Linked DNA regions of Homo sapiens. The protein of the gene in region 4 purifies or fractionates together with the protein of the main gene of each other region. This does not show direct contact. Each region holds a gene or a part of one and is shown on either strand. Other genes may lie near its edges.

What was found. The genes of interacting proteins can lie anywhere in the genome.
Region 1: the proteins of RPA1 (region 4) and SMARCAL1 purify together in Homo sapiens (affinity purification with mass spectrometry; 8 studies listed by BioGRID and IntAct, with this or other methods). This does not show direct contact.
Region 2: the proteins of RPA1 (region 4) and ZUP1 purify together in Homo sapiens (affinity purification with western blotting; 4 studies listed by BioGRID, with this or other methods). This does not show direct contact.
Region 3: the proteins of RPA1 (region 4) and RFC1 purify together in Homo sapiens (affinity purification with mass spectrometry; 3 studies listed by BioGRID, with this or other methods). This does not show direct contact.

What each region holds. Positions count from the first base shown.
Region 1 is NC_000002.12:216,410,137-216,415,639, reverse strand, and holds the start of SMARCAL1 (SWI/SNF-related matrix-associated actin-dependent regulator of chromatin subfamily A-like protein 1), read right to left. Parts: upstream 3,157-5,503; 5' UTR 2,992-3,156; intron 2,876-2,991; exon of another isoform or gene 2,842-2,875; intron 1,785-2,841; 5' UTR 1,748-1,784; intron 994-1,747; 5' UTR 936-993; coding exon 125-935; intron 1-124. UniProt on the Homo sapiens protein: ATP-dependent annealing helicase that binds selectively to fork DNA relative to ssDNA or dsDNA and catalyzes the rewinding of the stably unwound DNA. Rewinds single-stranded DNA bubbles that are stably bound by replication protein A (RPA).
Region 2 is NC_000006.12:116,658,411-116,663,119, reverse strand, and holds part of ZUP1 (zinc finger-containing ubiquitin peptidase 1), read left to right. Parts: intron 1-2,273; coding exon 2,274-2,384; intron 2,385-2,750; exon of another isoform or gene 2,751-2,887; intron 2,888-4,195; coding exon 4,196-4,317; intron 4,318-4,709. UniProt on the Homo sapiens protein: Deubiquitinase with endodeubiquitinase activity that specifically interacts with and cleaves 'Lys-63'-linked long polyubiquitin chains. Shows only weak activity against 'Lys-11' and 'Lys-48'-linked chains.
Region 3 is NC_000004.12:39,303,507-39,308,215, forward strand, and holds part of RFC1 (replication factor C subunit 1), read right to left. Parts: intron 3,199-4,709; coding exon of another isoform or gene 3,196-3,198; coding exon 3,086-3,195; intron 1,423-3,085; coding exon 1,308-1,422; intron 1-1,307. UniProt on the Homo sapiens protein: Subunit of the replication factor C (RFC) complex which acts during elongation of primed DNA templates by DNA polymerases delta and epsilon, and is necessary for ATP-dependent loading of proliferating cell nuclear antigen (PCNA) onto primed DNA.
Region 4 is NC_000017.11:1,885,503-1,890,211, forward strand, and holds part of RPA1 (replication protein A 70 kDa DNA-binding subunit), read left to right. Parts: intron 1-3,172; coding exon 3,173-3,349; intron 3,350-4,709. UniProt on the Homo sapiens protein: As part of the heterotrimeric replication protein A complex (RPA/RP-A), binds and stabilizes single-stranded DNA intermediates that form during DNA replication or upon DNA stress.

The sequences.
Region 1 (5,503 bases), on a different chromosome or scaffold from region 4:
TTAACAACTGGATGGACAGCATGTGCCAATGCACTCTCTTAATATTTATGAGAAACTGTTAGATTAAAAGAGACTCCAAAAATAAGAAAAAAAAAAAAAAACAGCTGAAAAATGAAGACATTACCATAATTCTTGCTGGGCAGGGTCTTAAACACTGCAATGAGTTCCGCATTGTACCCAATCAACACCTGGAAACGATCGCCGTTCCTTACGCACTTTCCCTTCTGAGAGTTCACTCCTTTTTGGACTGAGGACCCTGACTTCTGCTGGAGTCTTCCTTCTGTCCTGGGCGTTACACTCTCTGAGCTAGAATGGATGTAAGAAATGTTCTGCCCCGAAGGGGAGGCTTTTGCTGTCTTGGCCTCTAACTTAGCATCCCTGGGAGGCTGTCCAGAGGAATGAGCTGGTGTCTCTTGGGAACTCTTTGGTTTGGCCAGAGGCTTATGAGTTGGGTTAGCAAAGGGTGTGAACCTGATCTCAGGTGAAGCCTGAGCATGACCTTGACCTAACTCATAACTCAAGAGCTGTTGTTTAGGGACCTCTGGAGGACTTTGTGCCAAGGGAGGAGAGATTCCAGTGAGAGCCATTTGACTACGTGGACTGTGGCCTGGGCAGGCTGTGGGCATTTCTTCTGGCTTTTTCCATATTCCCTTTGCCTGAAAACTGTGGGAATCATGAGGTCTTTGGTCAGCATTAGATGAGCTACTGAGATTCTGTTGCTTGAAAATGACACCATGGCTCACTGGCTTACAAGACTCCCTTGGGAAATTTTGGGATGGGCCTTGCTTGGCCTGGAATGGGTTGCCAGCAATGGAGGTGCCCGAGCTAGTCCTCTGATGCTGTTCTGCCAATAACTTCTCAGCTCTGCGGGCCAGAGCCTTTTGTCGATTCTCTTCAATCTTTTTCCTCTGCTCCTCTGTAAGAGGCAAGGACATTTTCACAGAGAAATGCTTATGCAGGAATGTCAACCTTTAATTGGAAAGTTGGCAAAAGCTGTGGAAGAAAGTAAGAAGAATGAAATGAACATTACATGTATTAATTGTCATACTCCAACCATGATTTTAACAAGCTTTTGTCCCAGAAAATGCATAATGAGCACAACTAAAGGATGTATTAAAGTTTCTTTTATAATTGCACACACACTGAAATAGTAGGCAGCATATGCTGAAATAAAGACCCTGATCAAAAAGCAAAAAGCAGGTCGGGTGTAATCCCAGCACTTTGGGAAGCTGAGGCAGGTGGATCACTTGAGGTCAGGAGTTTGAGACCAGCCTGGCCAACATGGTGAAACCCCATCTCTACTAAAAATACAAAATTAGCCAGGCGTGGTGGTGCACGCCTGTAATCCCAGCTACTTGGGAGGCTGAGGCAGGAGAATTGCTTGAACCTGGGAGGCAGAGGTTGCAGTAAGCCAAGATCGTGCCACCGCACTCCAGCCTGGGCAACAAGAACAAAACTCTCAAAGAAAAAAAAAAAAGCAAAAAGCAAATCCAAAGCTAAAAAGGCATTTCAGAGGCAATATTTCTCTCCTTCTCACATGGTAACTCACATGGTAACTCAATGGTTCGAAGCACTGCCAAAATGGTGAGTAACTCTTCTGATAACTCACATGGCCCAGCCAAGGTGAGTTATCAGAACCTAAGAAAGTTATGCATTGCAACGTAAATCCATCAGATAATGAGAAAGGTGACATTTTTAACCAGAAAGCATAATAGATTAGACTGAAATAGACCAACCAACCACATACCATGGCGTGACACTTGCTAACATAGTCTTTTTCCAACCTAGAAGAAGGAAAAAAGCATTAGCCTCCCATAGCCTGCACACTGAATTCTCCCCTCACATTCACCCCTTTTTATCATTCCTGGCAAATCAGTCTGCCTGTGGCTCAGTGCAAGCCAGAGCAGCTGGCCTTAGGACCTGACTTCCAACACAACACACGGAGCAACTGACTGACTCTCCTGGGAAAATAAGGAGCAGAAAAAAAAAAATTATGTGTTCACTGTGCAAATTAAGATGCTACATAAAGATGTAAACAAAAAAGAATAAAATTACTCTGTAATCTTACCAGCCATCAATAACCACAGTTGAAATTAATAATTTAGAGTATATAGTTCGGATTTTTTTTCATCCATAACAAAATGGCACATATTTAGGAGATATAAGAATTTATTATAAAGTAGGATCATTGTAAACATTCCATATTGCACCCTGATTATTTTTTTCCATGAATTTACCCGGAACATTTATTTTCCTATGAGCTGAGACATGTTTACAATATTTTAGAAGCAGCGGGCAGGACACACCAATTTGTCTGGCTTGGTTCAGACTAAATAGGCTGCATCTAATGTAATGCTGTGTAACGGTTACAATGATGATGTAGGGGTACTCCAGTAGCATTGCTTAGGCCTCTGGGCAGCTATAGGGTTCAAAGCCTTCCTTCCCTGCTGGGGCTCCCTTTGGCCAGAACCCAACCCCCCTCCCCCCTCCCCCACCACGAAGTATCTATCCCCAGAGAACTTCCACCTTCTCCAACCATTAGCAGTTAGGAAGGGGTGAAGAGGTTAGGAAAAGGTTTTGGAGGTGCACAGCAGAAGCCCTCAGTCTCTCTGGGTAACACACTCCTGCCTAAGTTTCCAACCAGGGATCTCCTGCACCTCCAAACTCCCCAGATCCCAGGCCTGGTAAGCTGTCTCCACTAACCAGAGAGACTCGGCCATAAGACCCACTGATCAGCCCCAAACCATAAATCCATTCCGCCACATGGACGCCCCTCTTCCCCTCTAGGCAGGGACCTCTGCCCCCCGCCCCCCACGCCCCGCATTTCGGGGCGAGCCTCACCCAGCCTCAAGGTAAGCGGGCGCCACGCCCCACTCCCACCCCTACGATCTCCACTTGGATTCACCCTTCCCATTGGCCCACTTCCTCCTCCAGGCTGGCATTGGTCTCGTCCGCCTCCGCCGCCTTCCTGCCAGTCTACCACTTTCTCACCCAGGGAGGCCTAGAACGCGAGCCACATTCGCCCCCGGCCCTGACCCCAGGCGCGACTGCAGAGCCTCCCGAGCGGGACCGGTCTTCCGAGTGGACGGTTAGGCCACGGGTATTCAAGCGCTGCGAGTTCGCCAGCCTTATTGTAGCGGCCAGGCCTGAAGGGCTAGGCCACCGCTGAACTACATTTCCCAGCAGGCAACGCGGCCGCAGTTTCGCTTCCAAAAGTAAGAATGATGAGACGAGAACGCGAGCGGGGCTGCAGTGTCTTCTGGGATTTGTAGTTCGGGCCGGGAGCCTGGCGAGAAACGGGAGCTGCAACGTCATGGGCGGGGCGAAAGTGGTGCACCCTGGAAGTTGTAGTTCTCCAGAGGTTTAGCCAAACACTAGGTCCTGAAAGCCTAGGACGTTGAGGTTTCCAAACCCGGAGTCGGCTGTCTCCAGAGGACATCCCAGACAGCCATACTAACTTGGCAGCTCTTAATAAAAAGTATCTCCCCGGGGCATCCATTCCTGGTATTGCTATACTTGCCATTTAAGCCCCACCCGCTGCGCCCGGCTGCCATCATCGTCATCATTGTAGTCATCAGTCATTGTGTTTAGCATAAATATGAGTTACCTCATTTAACCGCACTACAACCTATGGAACACATTCTTGTCCCCCTTTTACAGAGGGGGAAACTAAGACAGCTATTTGATAATATTTCTCAAGGCTTTATTAAGCTAGCTTGTGATTCTGATTCCATAGCCCCTCCTCTTGAGAGAAGATTAGTCATGAGACTTAAAGAGTCACTTTACCCCATCCTGAGCACCAACATCCTGAGCCATCCTGAGCACCATTGGTGATAAATATAACATTTCTCTATCAGTGTGCATATGAATGTTGCTATTGTTCTATTTTCAAACATGGCTCATTTAAAAACAAACAAGTCTACTAAAGGATTTGAAAAAATGGACCAGACATGCTAAGAAAAAGGAAGCACAGCAATGTGTGTAGTTTGATTTTTTTTTTTTTCATCCTTACCTGTACATGTATGTAAACTCATAAAGGTCTGGGAAGGAAACTTAAAAAGTCACCAAACTGTTCAGGAGCAGAGTGGCATGAAATACACTTTTCAGCTTTTTAATCTCTATTTTTCAGAATGATTTGAATTTTCTAAAATAATAATGTAGAATTTGTGTGACTTTTGAAACAATAAATAATCTCCCTTCTTCCTTCCTTCCTTTTTTTTTTTTTTTTTTTTTTTTTTTTTTTTTTTGAGACAGAGTCTCACTCTGTTGCCTAGACTGAGTGTGGTGGTGTAATCTTGGCTCACTTCAGCCTCTGACTCCTGGGTTCAAATGATTCTCCTGCCTCAGCCTCCCAAATAGCTGGGATTATGGGTGCATGCCGCCATGCCTGGCTGATTTTAGTAATTTTAGTAGAGACAGAGTTTTACCATGTTGGCCAGGCTGGTCTCAAACTCCTGACCTCAAGTGATCCACCTGCCTCAGCCTCCCAAAGTGCTGGGATTACAGGTGTGAGCCACTGCGCCCAGCCCATTTGTCTTAAATGACAAAGACATTGCCTGTCTTAGGGGATCTGTGTGAGGTTTAGTAGTAGAAAGTATTCAAATCTCAGCTCTACCCCTTTTATTGACCTGACATACCCAGTGATTGTGCCTCCATTTTCTCATCTGTAAAGTAAATGTAGAAAACAATACCACCTTGGTAAATCTTGTTATTAGAATCAAAGCAAGGTATTATGAGGGGAAGTGCTTAGTGAACTGTGAAATCCCAGAACAGGTAAGAGAGGGATGTTGTTATTATTTGAGGTAAATCTCTTATATCGTCCGTTTCTCTATACCTAGCGCTCATTTCCTACTGTATAGTGTGAACAGAAACTAGTTAATGAACACCTGTCCCTGCCCTTCCTGTCTCCCAACAGTCAGTTAATTTACTAAGAAAGCTGGGTGCCGTGCACTTGACTCATGTCTGTCACCGATTCATATGACCATCACTTCGCTTTCCTGGGCCTCAGTCGTCTCACCTGTAAAATGATACCCTGCTTTGACATATGCTAAGAGGGCCTGTGGACCAGTGGATCCTCATGTTAGATACTAGAATTCTTATAGATTCACAGATCTTACCCCAGAAATTCCAATTCAGTAAGTCTGGAATTGAGTTAGAAGATGTGATTACCTTTCTAGCTCTAACATTCTAAAATTCTAAGAATAGGAAATTAAAATATGCCTTTGAGGCCGGGTGTGGTGGCTCATGTCTATAATCCCAGCACTTTGGGAGGCCAAAGCAGGCAGATCACCTGAGGTCAGGAGTTCGAGACTAGCCTAGCCAATATGGTGAAACCTCATCTCTACAAAACCCCATCTAATACAAAAAGTAGCTGGGCGTGGTGGTGCATGCCTGTAATTCCAGCTACTCAGGAAGCTGAGGCAGGAGAATCGCTTGAACCCTGGAGGCGGAGGTTGCAGTGAGCTGAGATCATGCCATTGCACTTCAGCCTGGGCAACAAGAG
Region 2 (4,709 bases), on a different chromosome or scaffold from region 4:
GAGATTTCAGAGATTCACTTAGTGATAAATTAAGGGTATAATTTTTGTCATTCGGTTGGTAAATTAGGGTAAAGGAAAAGATTGTTGGAAATGAAGGCATAGAACTATTTCTATGGATATTGAAGTTGCTAAGAATGATCATAGTATAGGGGCTAGGAAAAGAAGGTTTTGATCCAGGTGTTAACATTTTTAGTAAATGAAAGGAGTGTCTAAGACTTCAGAAAATATTAGGCACTAAGAAAGGTAGATGATGCCATATTATGGTGACATGAGTTATTACAAAAATGGGGCTTAAAACAGGTTTGACAGTGGTGAAAGGGAGCAAAGGGGATGCCTCTTCTACTTCTAGGGCCCTGAATTGTGAAAGAAAAGTTGCCTGTGTGTTAGGGGGCTGTAGAGAAAATGGGGTGTCATGAACCAACCAGATTTTAGTTAAGTCAAGAAGGTGAAGTGAATATCCAGAGAAAGATTTTGTGTATAGAGAAGCTGACTGATGACCGATGGTATTTCTGAGGGCATTGTGGTAGGTATTGGGAGAATAGGAGGGGTAATAGCTTGGGTCAGATTAGCAGATGTCCTTCAGGTATTTAAAGATTGTTAAGACACTGCCACTGAACAATTAGATTGGATTCATTGACACAACAGTGTTGGTGGTTACATCAGCCCTAGATGACTCCATTGGATGATGATGGCTAACCTCTGAGGCTTAGTTTAGATTCTGGTGGTAAAAAATGTATACTGGGATATGAGGTGTAGTGTGGTCTAATGTTGAGGAAGGTTGGTTATCACTTAAAACTAGAAGGGGTGGAGGGATTGGCTTGCAGTAGTGTGATGATCAAAGCGATAAGCAAAGGCCTCCTTGGCATTGGCTCTGGCTCTAAGGCATTTTATGGTAGAGAACTGGCTGAAAGACTTCTCTTACATCCGCCAGCATTACTTATGGAAGCTGTATACCATTATTTCTTACTGCTGCTTTTGGAAATATTTTCTGAGTACTTAATACTTCATTTTCTCTTGAGCTTTGCCATTGAATTTTTTATTCCAATGATTACATCTTAATATTTTCATTTTCTTCATCTTTCTATTTTTTCTTAGTAACTTTCTGTCCTGGTTTCAAAGATTCAGTTCCCTCCTTTATTTCAGTGAGCATTTTGAACATACTTATTTTACAGTTTATTATGGATTACTGTAGCTCCATTTCTTCACAGGTAACTTTTTCAGTTTGTAGATTTCTTAGCTGTTTTTCTTGGCATTGCAGCCCCCAGTGAGTTTAGCAATTCAAATTTTAGTGTTCATCTGTTATGGGAGTTTTATATGATCCCTTCCCTGTGAAGCAGTTTCATGGTTCCTTCACACTGGCTGTTCACAGTCTCTGCTTTCAGACCAGGCCTTACATATACAGATTGCTCTATGCTTTCACTCTGTGTATATGCACAATTCTGGGTCCCTCTTCTATGTCCCTTATCTGCTAGGTCTTGGTCTTATAGAGGAACAATTTCTGTTTTTGGCAAGCTAGACCTGTCTGCCTGCAGTGCTATGTGATGGATGCAGCTCTTTAATCTCCTGCTCCTGTGTAGACAGTATTACCCCAATTCCCAGCTTTATGCTGGATGTTTAAGTTCAGCACCTTACCACTCTGTTGGGTGCTGAGAATTTAGTCCTAAAAACCCATATCCAGACTGGGCCCTACTTACCACTTTGGTTTTCCTTTCTGCTTCTCTTGTTTTGACTACAGATCTGAATATTTATTATTAATATTTCCTTTTTTTTTGGAGTGGTATGAGAGGTTTGTGCTATGCTCAGCCTTCTATCTCGACCCTAGAAGTAGAAAAATAGCTTTTAAATCCACTACAAAGAGCTTTTACTTATATAAGGTTAATAGGTGGTAGACAGTCTTTGACATGGGGTGAAAAAATCTAAAAGTTATAAAAATAAAACCAACTTGGCTGGGCATGGTGGCTCATGCCTGTAATCCCAGCACTTTGGGATGCTGAGGCAGAAGGATCACTTGAGTCCAGGAGTTTGAGACCAGCCTGGACGACATAGTGAGATCTCATCTCTAAAAAAAAAAAAATTAGCTGGGCGTGGTGGCGCATGCCTTTAGCCCCATCTACTTGGGAGGCTGAGATGGGAGGATTGCTGCAGTGAGCCGTGATGGTGCCACTGCACGCCAGCCTGGGCAACAGAGTGAGACCCTGTCTCAAAAAAAAAAAAAGCAAAGAAAAAAATTAAAATAAAAAAATAAAAACAACTTAATTATATCTCTGATACAGACTGTGATCAACCACTCTATGATTGTCCTATGTGTGGGCTCATATGTACAAATTACCATATTCTTCAGGAACATGTTGACTTGCATTTGGAAGAAAACAGCTTTCAGCAAGGTATGTTTATATGTTTGAAGATAAAAATATCATTTAATTTCTACTTTCTAGGACACATATCTAATTTTTAGATTTGTGATATGGAAAAAATATTTTAAAATACATCTTTTCCTTTAAAAGTGTTTTATTTACAAGTTGAGGCCATTTCTTTAGCAGCTAGAAGTATCTGAATATTGTATTTGGTCAGCGAAAATTGTTGAACTAGAAAACTGCCATATGGCACATAAAATTTTACAAATGAATGTGAACTATATAACCAAAACATCTTTCAGTGCATCTTGAGCTGCTTGAATAGCTTCTAAATGACTTACTGGTTTTATTGTGATTCTATAAAAGTTTTCCTTTCTCCCCTATGTTTTTTAATAGTGGCATTGTTTAAATAATCATTATGGTGGCTTAGAAGTGGAAAAATCCTATATGAATGTTAGAAGCCCACTGAACGAAAATAAAAAGTAGATCCCAAGAGAAACCAATTGTGTTTTACCCTATTTCAGTTTTTTAAGGTACGTAGATAGCTTCTGTTAAGGCAGAGGTCTTTAGTGTCCAGTATCAATGATCCTAGTACCAGTATCGGTGTTCATGGACAATGTTACTGCTCACTCACCCTAAGCCAAATATGAGATTATTGGGGCAAAGATGGAAAAGTTCCCTGCTCTGGTGGTTTCTGAATGTCTGCTAATTCTTACTCTTATTTATGATAGGCTTTGTATGAGCACGTATATTACAGTGTAAACCTATAGTGGGTAATAAGAAAAAGATATGGTCTAAGTAAATCACTGTAGATAACCTCAGGGGACACTAAACATTGAGTGTGACTTGTATATCCCCAAGAATGGAAGGGTGACCAAATAGGAAGATGTAGCAGCAGCTGAGAACTTTGAAAGGAAAGGAAGAATAGTCAGTGATATAATTAAACCATCAGGTCATGGGGTTAAGGAGACAAGATAGTGGCCAGAAGCCACTGACAAATGGATCTGGGGGACACCGAGTAGAGAAGATGCAGGATGAGATGTTGCAAAGTTTTACCATTTTTGGGGGCCAAACTGTAATTAAATTATTATCTAACACCTGCACTTTGTAAATGTGTATTTTTATGCTCTTTATTTTTTTTTTTTTCTCCCCTAGTATTTCTTTGAAAAATCAATCTGCCTTAGTTATGTTAAGGAGTATCAATGCAGGATGTTACTTAACGTTTTAAAATTCTGGTTTCCTCAGTAAATAATAATAACTACTTCATAAGATTGTTACAAAGATCAAATGATATAATTAATGAAAAGTGCTTGTCACAGCTTTAAACACTTAGTGAGGCTGGGCATGGTAGCTCACGCCTGTAATCTCAGCACTTTGGGAGGCCGAGGCTGGTGGATCACCTGAGGTTAGGAGTTTGAGACCAGCCTGACCAACATGGCGAAACTCCATCTCTACTAAAAATACAAAAATTAGCTGGGCATGGTGGCAGGCACCTGTAATCCCAGCTACTCAGGAGGCTGCAGCAGGAGAATCACTTGAACCTGGCAGGCAGAGGTTGCAGTGAGCTGAGATCGCACCATTGTACTCCAGCCTGGGCAATAAGAGCGAAACTCCGTCTCAAAAAACAAAAAACAGTGACTGTTAGTTGTCATTTAGATGGAGGTTATTCCTTACCAAAGCAGTTCTAAGTTTTGCTAAATTTGTACTCAGTTCCATATCATCACAGTCATGAATAAATGGCAAATAACAGCATTTACTCTATTTTAAAAACATATATTAAATAATAAATAATCTTTGATTGCAACAGTTATTTTATTCTGAACATTAACAATACCTAACAGGCATGGATAGAGTCCAGTGTTCTGGTGATCTACAATTGGCTCACCAGCTTCAGCAAGAAGAAGACAGAAAGAGGAGATCTGAAGAATCAAGACAAGAAATAGAAGAATTTCAGAAGCTGCAGGTACAAAGATTAATAACAATTATAATATTTTGATTTGGTAAAGTTATTTTTCAAATATGCTTTCCAGTGTATTATTTTTGTCCTTGTTATTATTCAAAAAAAATTTATACATGTTTGTAACAGACACCATTTATAAATATTCATTCTAGTGAGGCACAGGGGTAATCACTTCACATACAATATCTCAAAATCTTTGCAACATATTCATGAAGAAGTTACTTTAGGCCCTCCCACGCCCCCTTTTTTTTCAGATGAAGAAATGGAGACAGAGAATGGTTAAGTAATTTGCTCAGTGTCAGGCAGCTAATTAGTGATAAAGCTTGCATTCAAACCTGTGTAAGTTGATGGGACAAATTAGGAAACCAAGACTCAGAATTTAAGTGTTTGTATAG
Region 3 (4,709 bases), on a different chromosome or scaffold from region 4:
GCAATGGCACGATATTGGCTCACTGCAACCTCCGCCTCCCGGGTTCAAGCAATTCTTTTGCCTCAGCCTCCCAAGTAGCTGAGATTACAGGCGCACGCCACCACACCCAGCTAATTTTTGTATTTTTAGTAGAGACGGTGTTTCACCATGTTGACCAGGCTGGTCTCAAACTCCTGACCTCAGGTGATCTGTCCGCCTCAGCCTCCCAAAGTGCTGGGATTACAGGCGTGAGCCAACATGCCCAGCCAGTTTTGTCATTTTATGTATTTTGGTGATTCATTCTTTATCTTACAGATACAGAACACTTCATTTTTTAAGGCAATTTAATACTCCATTCTACACTTGTATCACACACTTTACTTAATCACCATTAATGAAATATATAGGATGCTTCCAAGCTTTTTTCTATTATGTCATACTAAATGACTATCCTTATCTATATGGCATATATATGCCACTTTGCACATATAAAATAATAGCTAAATTCCAGCAATTGGAATTTCTGGGCTAGACGGTATGTGTAATTTGAGAAATATTGCTGGACTCTCTCCAGAGTTGTACCAATCTACCCTCCCACCAGCCACGTCTAAGAGTGACATTTCCTGAGCAAATTATTTTGAACAATGTGAAGGCACCAAGAATTCAGGTGACAAAACAACACACCATAGACTCTAAATAGGCACTGTGCGGTCCTTAACTTGAGCATCTTATTTTCCATGAACTCTGGCCATAGAGGACCACTAGCTACAACCTGAAACACAGTGGGCATTTGCACACTGTCTTCTCTTTTACTACCTTTGCCTGCAGTGACCTCTTCCACCTCCAAATAGTTTTCTTTCTCATTCTTTGAGGTCTTTCAAAACAATTATCACCCCTTTAACTCAATGCCCCAAGCATAATTACTTCTTCATCTGCTGGCCTTATTACCTCACTCTGTATTACATACTTTATTACATACATGCAGAGTGAGGTTAATAAGGTAATGAGGTAATAAGTCACACTGCATTACACATGGTTTTTTATTTTCTTTCTCTCTTTACAGGATTCACCTGTGAATCCTCTAAAATCATGAAAAACGAATATGTGCATGTACACATTTTTATCACATTCTTAGAAACCTCTAAGACCTACGAAAGGGTAAGTACTGCCCCATAAGAGTGATGTCAGACGGCTTTCTTATTCTCTTGTTAGCCCCAGAATTTAGTAGGGTGCTTGGCACACAACCTGTGTTCAATACTGGTTACTGAACATTGAAATGAACATATTTTTCTTATATAACAACAACAGGAGGTCAAAAAGCCACATACTTGAATAAAAGCCTTTGATGCTGGTATTGTTCAGTGACTCAGCAACAATCGCCTTCAAACTGCTCTTACTCCGGGTGTCACTTGCATTCAGTTCCACGTAGCTGTATCCCAACTCCTAATCAAAATATTGGAAACCACTGAAGGCACAATACAAATTAACTCCACCACCCCCGCCAAGAAAGGCCAGTTAAGAAAGAAAGAAGGTACAAAATTAATATAAAAACCCATAGGTAAAGTATAAAGTATGATACTAACAGACAATGAGATTAACTATAGTATGCCTTACAATATTAGAAATTTTTAGAATATCATATACATACATATAACATACACATACAAACACAAATAAGTTTGGTCTTAAAACTTCAGCTGACAAATCACTAATCTGGAAGAGTATATTCAAACAAGCAATTTTACTAAATTTACTTCTTAAAGTCCTAAAAAAAGGATTAAACATAATCATCCCAACAATTCACTATCAGACACAGAATTAATCTAGTATAAGATACCAGCCAGGTGCGTTGACTCACACCTGTAATACCAGCGCTTTTGGGAGTCCAAAGTGGATGGATTAATTGAGGTCAGGAGTTTGAAACCAGCCTGGCCAACATGGTGAAACCCCATCTCGACTAAAAATACAAAAAATTAGCTGGGCGTGGTGGCGTGTTCCTGTAGTCTCAGCTACTCTGGAGGGTGAGGCATGAGAATCACTTGAACCTGGGAGGCAGAAGTTGCAGTGAACCGAGACCGTGCCATTACACTCCAGCCTGGGTGGCAGAGTAAAACTGTGTCTCAAAACAAAAAAATAAAATAAGATATCAAAAAGTAATCCTCTCTAAGATAATTTATAAAGTTAAATCATTCTTTGTCACGACACTATCCCAATAAACTATTTTCCTCTGAAATCAGGAAAATTCAAATTCTTCTGATTCATTTCCCAAAACTGATTACCTTATGCCTTAATTCATAAAAAATATAATGATAATAATAAAGAGAGAAAAAGAGTTGTGTTCACAACTGTAGGGACTAGGAAAAAAATGTTGTTTTGCTTTTTCATTAATGTTTATAAACACAGTGGAAACAGATAAAATTTTATTTAAATTTTATGCAGATGCATACAACAAAAAAACAAAAGAAACCACAAGCTTATGCAGCAGAGGATTGAGAAATCCAGCAATAAATTTCTAATCTCTTATTTCATCACTGTGATACTAACACGTGAACTCTGATCTGCTCTAGTGCCTAAGCAAGTCAAGTTCTCCCATTGTCTACAGGGATTCAGTAGCAATAGAGACAATAGGAACGAAGGCAGGATCACACAGTGCTGAAGAGCAGAACCCTGAGTCGCGCTACCGGGTGAAAACTGGGCCTCCACCCTCCTCCCTAAGCCTATTTCATTTGACACATGTGGATGATGACAGTACAGATAATTATTCAGTACACAGAATTATTCAAAGGCATTAAGATATTTGCATCTTTCAGAGTCTAGAATACATGTTTTTGTTATCTATAATACACCCACGTGCTTAGTACACTGCCTCGCTCGTTGGTAAGTATTGCTTATTACTTTAATTACCAATATTTTAAAAGGATTAAAATTACAAACATCGCCAGAACCAAAACAGGTTCTAAAGGTTTTATCTTAGAAAAATAAACACAGTTTATATATAGACACCACACACACACATGCACACGCACAGATGTGGGTACACACTTTTATCTCCTAGCCATGACCACTCGAGGTTATCTGTCCGACCACACTGTGACAACGCACCCACCTGACACACCAGGGAAGCTGTGGTGGTTTTGCCAACACCAGGAGGGCCTGACAGCAACGCTGCTTTAAAACTAGAGCCATCATCTTTGCCGGAAAATTTACCAAACTTTGCTGCTAGGAAAAAAGAAGTTCCAGAGTGTCAACCTATATCACCTAACAGAAATTCAAGCATGGCAGAAATAGTTATGCCTAAACTTCACATAGACAGCTGTCCTCCAGTTTAGTTCTAAATTTGCAGACTATTTTCTACAAAGCATAAACAAGTTTCCAGAGCATTCAGTGAAATTCTACTTCCTACCTCACCCCCACCCAAAATAAAAAACTAAAACTAACTCACTTAAAACTCTTGATTTGAAATAATAATTGTATGAGTTTCCTTTCCTGTGAACGCACAGGCCATGGAGCACGCTGCCGGGGCTCGATCCCAACTCCATCCATCCTCATGCCACCTCTCACCAGCCGTGGGTACTTTAGAAGTGACTTAGCCCCTCTGTGCCTGCCTCCTCCTTTGTTAGATGAGGAGAACAACAGTAAAGTTGCTGCTAAGGATGTTGTGAGGACGGAATGGCTGAGCACAGAGCCATGCAAGCTTCACTAAATGTTAACAAGCATAGTAGCTACATGGTCACAAGAAGAAAAAATGACTTGAAGATGCTGCGTCTGCAACTACCTTGTGCCCCTCAACACTACAGCACTCTTCCTCCCCTCACCACGTGAGCACCTGGCACATACATCATGCTCAACTCATACTCAATAACTGACAGAGACAATGGTTTTCAACCTACTGCCAGCGGGCATGAAGACAGGGACTAGAGTTCACCCGAAGCTTTAAAACAGTCTTCTTGGCTGGGTGCGGTGGCTCACGCCTGTAATCTCAGCACCTGGGGAGGCCAAGGCGGGTAGAGCACAAGGTCAGGAGTTCAAGACCAGCCTGGCCAGCATGGTGAAATCCCATCTCTACTAAAACTACAAAAAATTAGCCAGGCATGGTGGTGTGCACCTGTAGTCTCAGCTGCTCAGGAGGCTGAGACAGAAGAATCACCTGAACCCAGGAAGCAGAGGTTGCAGTGAGCCAAGATCGCACCACTGCACTCCAGCCTGGGCAACAGAGCAAGACTCTGTCTCAAAACAAAACAAAACAAAACAAAAAAAAAACAGTCTTCTCCAGGCACATGAAATGCCTGTCTCCTCTTTTAAGGGAGATTTTATGAAGTTTCAGAATGAAAAAAGTGATTTAACTTAAATTTAGTCCTGTATCATTACAATATATTATTTTTATAAATAAACAGGCATCATTGGCAATGATGATTGGCAATCTAGTCATCACTGGTCTATGTTGAAAACACTACTAAAACATTTGTGATCTCAAAGCTCAGTTAAGAAAATACTTTGGACATTAAATACATATTGGAGCTTTTCACTCTCCACGACAAATAATACATCATAAACAAGGACAGAAACTACAGAAGCACAGGCCTATCGGGCCTGCCACAGCAAATCGTGCTTGCTACTGGGAGTTTAGGCTGACTGCCCTGCACGCATGCCTCTGTTATTTATTCACAGCTTTCCTCCTAGTGCCCTTGCCACTCAGGGGTCTTGCTGTCACATGGCTTCAGACCTTGGGA
Region 4 (4,709 bases):
ATTCTGTCACTCAGGCTGGAGTGCACTGGCTTGATCACAGCTCACTGCAGTCTCAACCTCCCCAGGCTCCCAAGCTGGGACTACAGGTGCTGCCACACCTGGCTAATTGTATTTTTTGTAGAGACTGAGTTGTGTCATGTTGCCCAGGCTGCTCTCAAACTCCTGGGCTCAAGGGATCTCCCTGCCTCAACCTCTCAAAGTGCCAGGAGTTACAGGTGTGAGCGACTGTGCCCAGCCAACTGTTCTTAATAGCATCTAGAATGGTGAATCCTTTTCAGGTTTTCAATTTACTTTCCCCAGATCCATCAGAGGAATCACTGTGGCAACTATCGCCTCATGAAATATGTCTCTTAGACTTAAAAAGTCAAAATTACTCCTTGATTTGCATGGGCTGCAGAATAGATGTTGTTATCAAGCATGAAAACAATATTAATCTCCTTGTTCTGTGCATCTCCATTGAGCCCTCGGGTGAACAGGTGCATTGTCAATATATTAATCTCCTTGTACTGTGTGTCTCCATTGAGCCCTTGGGTGAACAGGTGCATTGTCAATATATTAATCTCCTTGTACTGTGTGTCTCCATTGAGCTCTTGTGTGAACAGGTGCATTGTCAATATATTAATCTCCTCGTACTGTGTGTCTCCATTGAGCTCTCGGGTGAACAGGTGCATTGTCAATGAGCAGTCATATTTTTAAAGGAGTCTCTTTTTCTGAGTAGTAGGTCTCAACAGTGGGCTTAAAATATTCAATAAACTACACTATAAATAGATATGCTGTCATCCAAGCTTTGATATTCTATTTATAAAGCAGAGGCAAAGTAGATTTAGCATAGTTCTTATGAGCCCTAAGATTTTTGACATGGTCAATGAGCACTGGCTTCACCTTATAGTCCCCAGCTGCATTCGCGCCTAACAGGAGAGTCAGCCTTTCCTTTGAAGCTTTGAAGCCAGGCATTGATTTCTACTCTCTAGGACGAATGTTCTTGATGGCATCTTCTTCCAGAAGGCTATTCTGTCTACGTTGAAAATCTGTTGTTGAGTGCAGCCACCTTCATTGGTGGTCCTAGCTAGATCTTCTGGATAACTTGCTGCAGCTTCTCCATCAGCACTTGCTGCTTCACCTTGCACTTTTGTTATGGTGACGGCTTATTTCCTTAAACCTCATGAACCAACATCTGCTGGCTGCCATCTTTTCTTCTGCAGCTTTTTTTTTTTTTTTTTTTGAGACAGAGTCTCACTCTGTCACCCAGGCTGGAGTGCAGTGGTGCAATCACAGCTCACCTCAGCCTCTGGAGTAGCTGGGACTACAGGTGCACACCACCGTGCCCTGACAGATTTTTGTAGAGACTAGGTCTCACTATGTTGCCTGGCTGGTATCGAACTCCTTGGCTTAGGCAATCATGTTGCCTCTGCCTCCCAAAGTGCTGGGATTACAGGTGTGAGCCACTGCACCTGGCCTCTTCTGCAGCTTCCTGACCTCTCTCAGCCTTCACAGAATTGAAGAAAGGTGAGGCCTTGCTCTGGGTTAGGCTTTGGCTTAAGAGAATGTTGTGGCTTGCTTGATATTCTATCTAGACCACTACAGCTTACTCCATATCAGCAGTAAGGCTGTTTGCTTTCTTATTTGTGTATTCAAAGAAGAGAGACAGGAATACTTGATTGGAGGATCAGTCAGCATACATACAACATTCATCAATATAAGTTCCCCATCTTATATGGGTGTAGTTGGTGGCACCCCAGAACAACTACAATAGTGACGTTAAAGATCACTGTAGGCCAGGCGCGGTGGCTCATTCCTGTAATCCCAGCACTTTGGGAGGCTGAGGCAGGCGGATCACCTGAAGTCAGGAGATCGAGACCATCCTGACCAACGTGGTTAAAACCCCGTCTCTACTAAAAATACAAAAATTAGCTGGGCGTAGTGGTGCATGCCTGTAGTCCCAGCTTCTCGGGAGGCTGAGGCAGGAGAATCGTTTGACCCTGGGAGGCGGAGATTTCAGTGAGCTGAGATCATGCCACTGCACTCCAGCCTGGTGACAGAGCGAGACTCCGTCTCAGAAAAAAAAAAAAAATCACCATAACAGATATGATAATAATGAAAAAGGGCCAGGCATGGTGGCTTACTCCTATAATCCTAGCACTTCGGGAGGCCAAGGTGGGTGGATCACTTGAGGTTTGGAGTTCGAGACCAGCCTACCCAACATGGCAAAACCCCATCTCTACTAAAAAATACAAAAATTAGCCAGGCGTGGTAGTGCACGCCTGTAGTCCCAGCTACTTGGGTGGCTGAGGCAGGAGAATCACTTGAACCTGGGAGGTGGAGGCTGCAGTGATCAGAGATTACACCACTCACTGCACCCCAGCCTGGGCGACAGAGCGAGACTCTGTCTCAAAAAATACATATATAATGAAAAAGTTTGAAATCTTGCAAGAATTACTGTCTTTATGTGACACAGAGACATAAAGTGAGCACCTGCTATTGGGAAAATAGTGCATTTACTTGACCCAGGGGTGCCACAAGTCTTCAATCTGTAAAAAATGCCGTATCTGTCAAGTGCAGTAAAGCAAAGCACAATAAAGTGAGGTGTGTCTGTAGTTGCAGCAGAGACTGTGACCAAATGGCTGCTAAGGCCTGAAATATTTACTGTTTGGCTTTTTACAGAAGCAGCTTGCTGATCCCTGGCCTAAACAAGGAAAAGGTGAATCTAGGCCTAGACACGACTGCCGTGTTTTGAGCGCGGGAGGGATGGTTGATCGTTGCTGCACTGGGTGTTTGTGGTCCGCATTCTGTATTTCCTAGATCTGTGGCCTTTGGAGGGTCAGAGGATCGGGAGGAACAAATCTTTGTCTTTCATACAGTGTTCAAGCAAACAGGAAAACAATTTCACTTTTAATTAACTTAGTGTAATTTAGGATTAACTCTTTTATTGTGAAGGAATTATCTGCCTCAGAACTTGGCTTATTAGAACTTGGCTTATTACCTTCATGGGTTTTGTACTCGGCACATGTGATTTCTAAAACTACAGAATGAATGATTCCCTGTGATCATGTGTAATCTTGAGGATGTAGAAACACTTACCACCTAAACGTAAGGGCAGGCTTTGAGCTGCCTCTCGGTCCGATCCTGGGCGGGCTCGCGACTCCGTGCCTCATGCTGTTCTTTTCTCCCGAAGCCGGACTACTTTAGTTCTGTGGCCACAGTGGTGTATCTTCGCAAAGAGAACTGCATGTACCAAGCCTGCCCGACTCAGGACTGCAATAAGAAAGTGATTGATCAACAGAATGGATTGTACCGCTGTGAGAAGTGCGACACCGAATTTCCCAATTTCAAGTACCGCATGATCCTGTCAGTAAGTAGCCTCGGTAGATGAGAACCACGGTTGTGTTCACGGAGGCCCTCCCGTGTGCCAGGCACTGTGGTCACAACAGTAGAGACAAAGCATTCCTGGTAGGAAGCCCGCAGATGAGTAGGTGTGGAAGAGCTTATCCATCCGCTTTTTCATGCCAGAAAGTGGTGTTGAGATACCCCAGCTGATTCAGTCTTTCATGCACGTCATACAGCCATAGCGTCAGTGACACTTGCCTGCTAACTGCTATGAAGATAAATTAATTTGAAAACGGCATTTATAGACAGCACTAATTGTACTTACACAGCCAATGCCCGTATTTAGTCACTTTCATGTGGATAATCTATTCTCTAGCTTTAGTATAGCTGACTTCAGAGGAATGTGACGGTGTGCTGATGTGAGATTGTTGCTTTTTTGCATTTTAAGAATTGTTTCTTTCTGTTTTAAAAACCTTTTTAAAAAAGTTGTAAAGTTGGGTTTAAAAAAATTTTTTTTTTTTTTTAAGAAACAGGGGTCTCACTCTGTTGCCCAGAATAGAGTGCAATGGTATCATCACAGCTCATGGTGGCCCCAACCTCCCGGGCTTAAGCAGTCCTTCCACCTTGGCCTCCCAAGTAGCTGCAACTACAGCTGTGCACCACCACACCCAGCTAATTTTTAAAATTATTTTATTGTAGAGACAGGGTCTCGCTCTGCTGTTCAGGTTGGTCTCAAGTTCCTGGCCTCATGTCATCCTCCCACCTCAGCCTTCCAAAGTGCTGGCATTACAAGCCTGAGCCACTGCACCCGGCCTTAAGATTTTTATTTTGTTTTGTTTTGTTTTCAATGATAGAACTAGGCGATAATAGCAGTTTAAGAAAACAGTTTAAGGCCGGGCACAGTGGCTCACTTTTGTAATCCCAGCACTTTGGGAGGCCGAGGCGGGTGCGTCACCTGAGATCAGGAGTTTGAGACCAGCCTGGCCAACATGGTGAAACCCTGTCTCTACTAAAAATACAAAAATTAGCCGGGCGTGGTGGCGGGTGCCTGTAGTCCCAGCTACTCGGGAGGCTGAGGCAGGAGAATCGCTTGAACCCGGGAGGCAGAGGTTGCAGTGAGCCGAGATCACACCACTGCACTCCAGCCCGGGCGACAAGAGCAAAACTCCATCTCAAGAAAAGAGAAAAAGAAAACAGTTTCACATTTTTCCAAAGGATGATTTGGCAGTAATATATCAGAAGCCTGAAAAATGTTCATATTGGCCAGGCGCAGTGACTTGTGCCTGTAACCCCAGCACTTTGGAAGGCTGAGGCAGGATGATTGCTTGAGGCTGGGAGTTCGATATCAGCCTGGGCAACATGGCAAGACCCTGTCTCTACAAAAA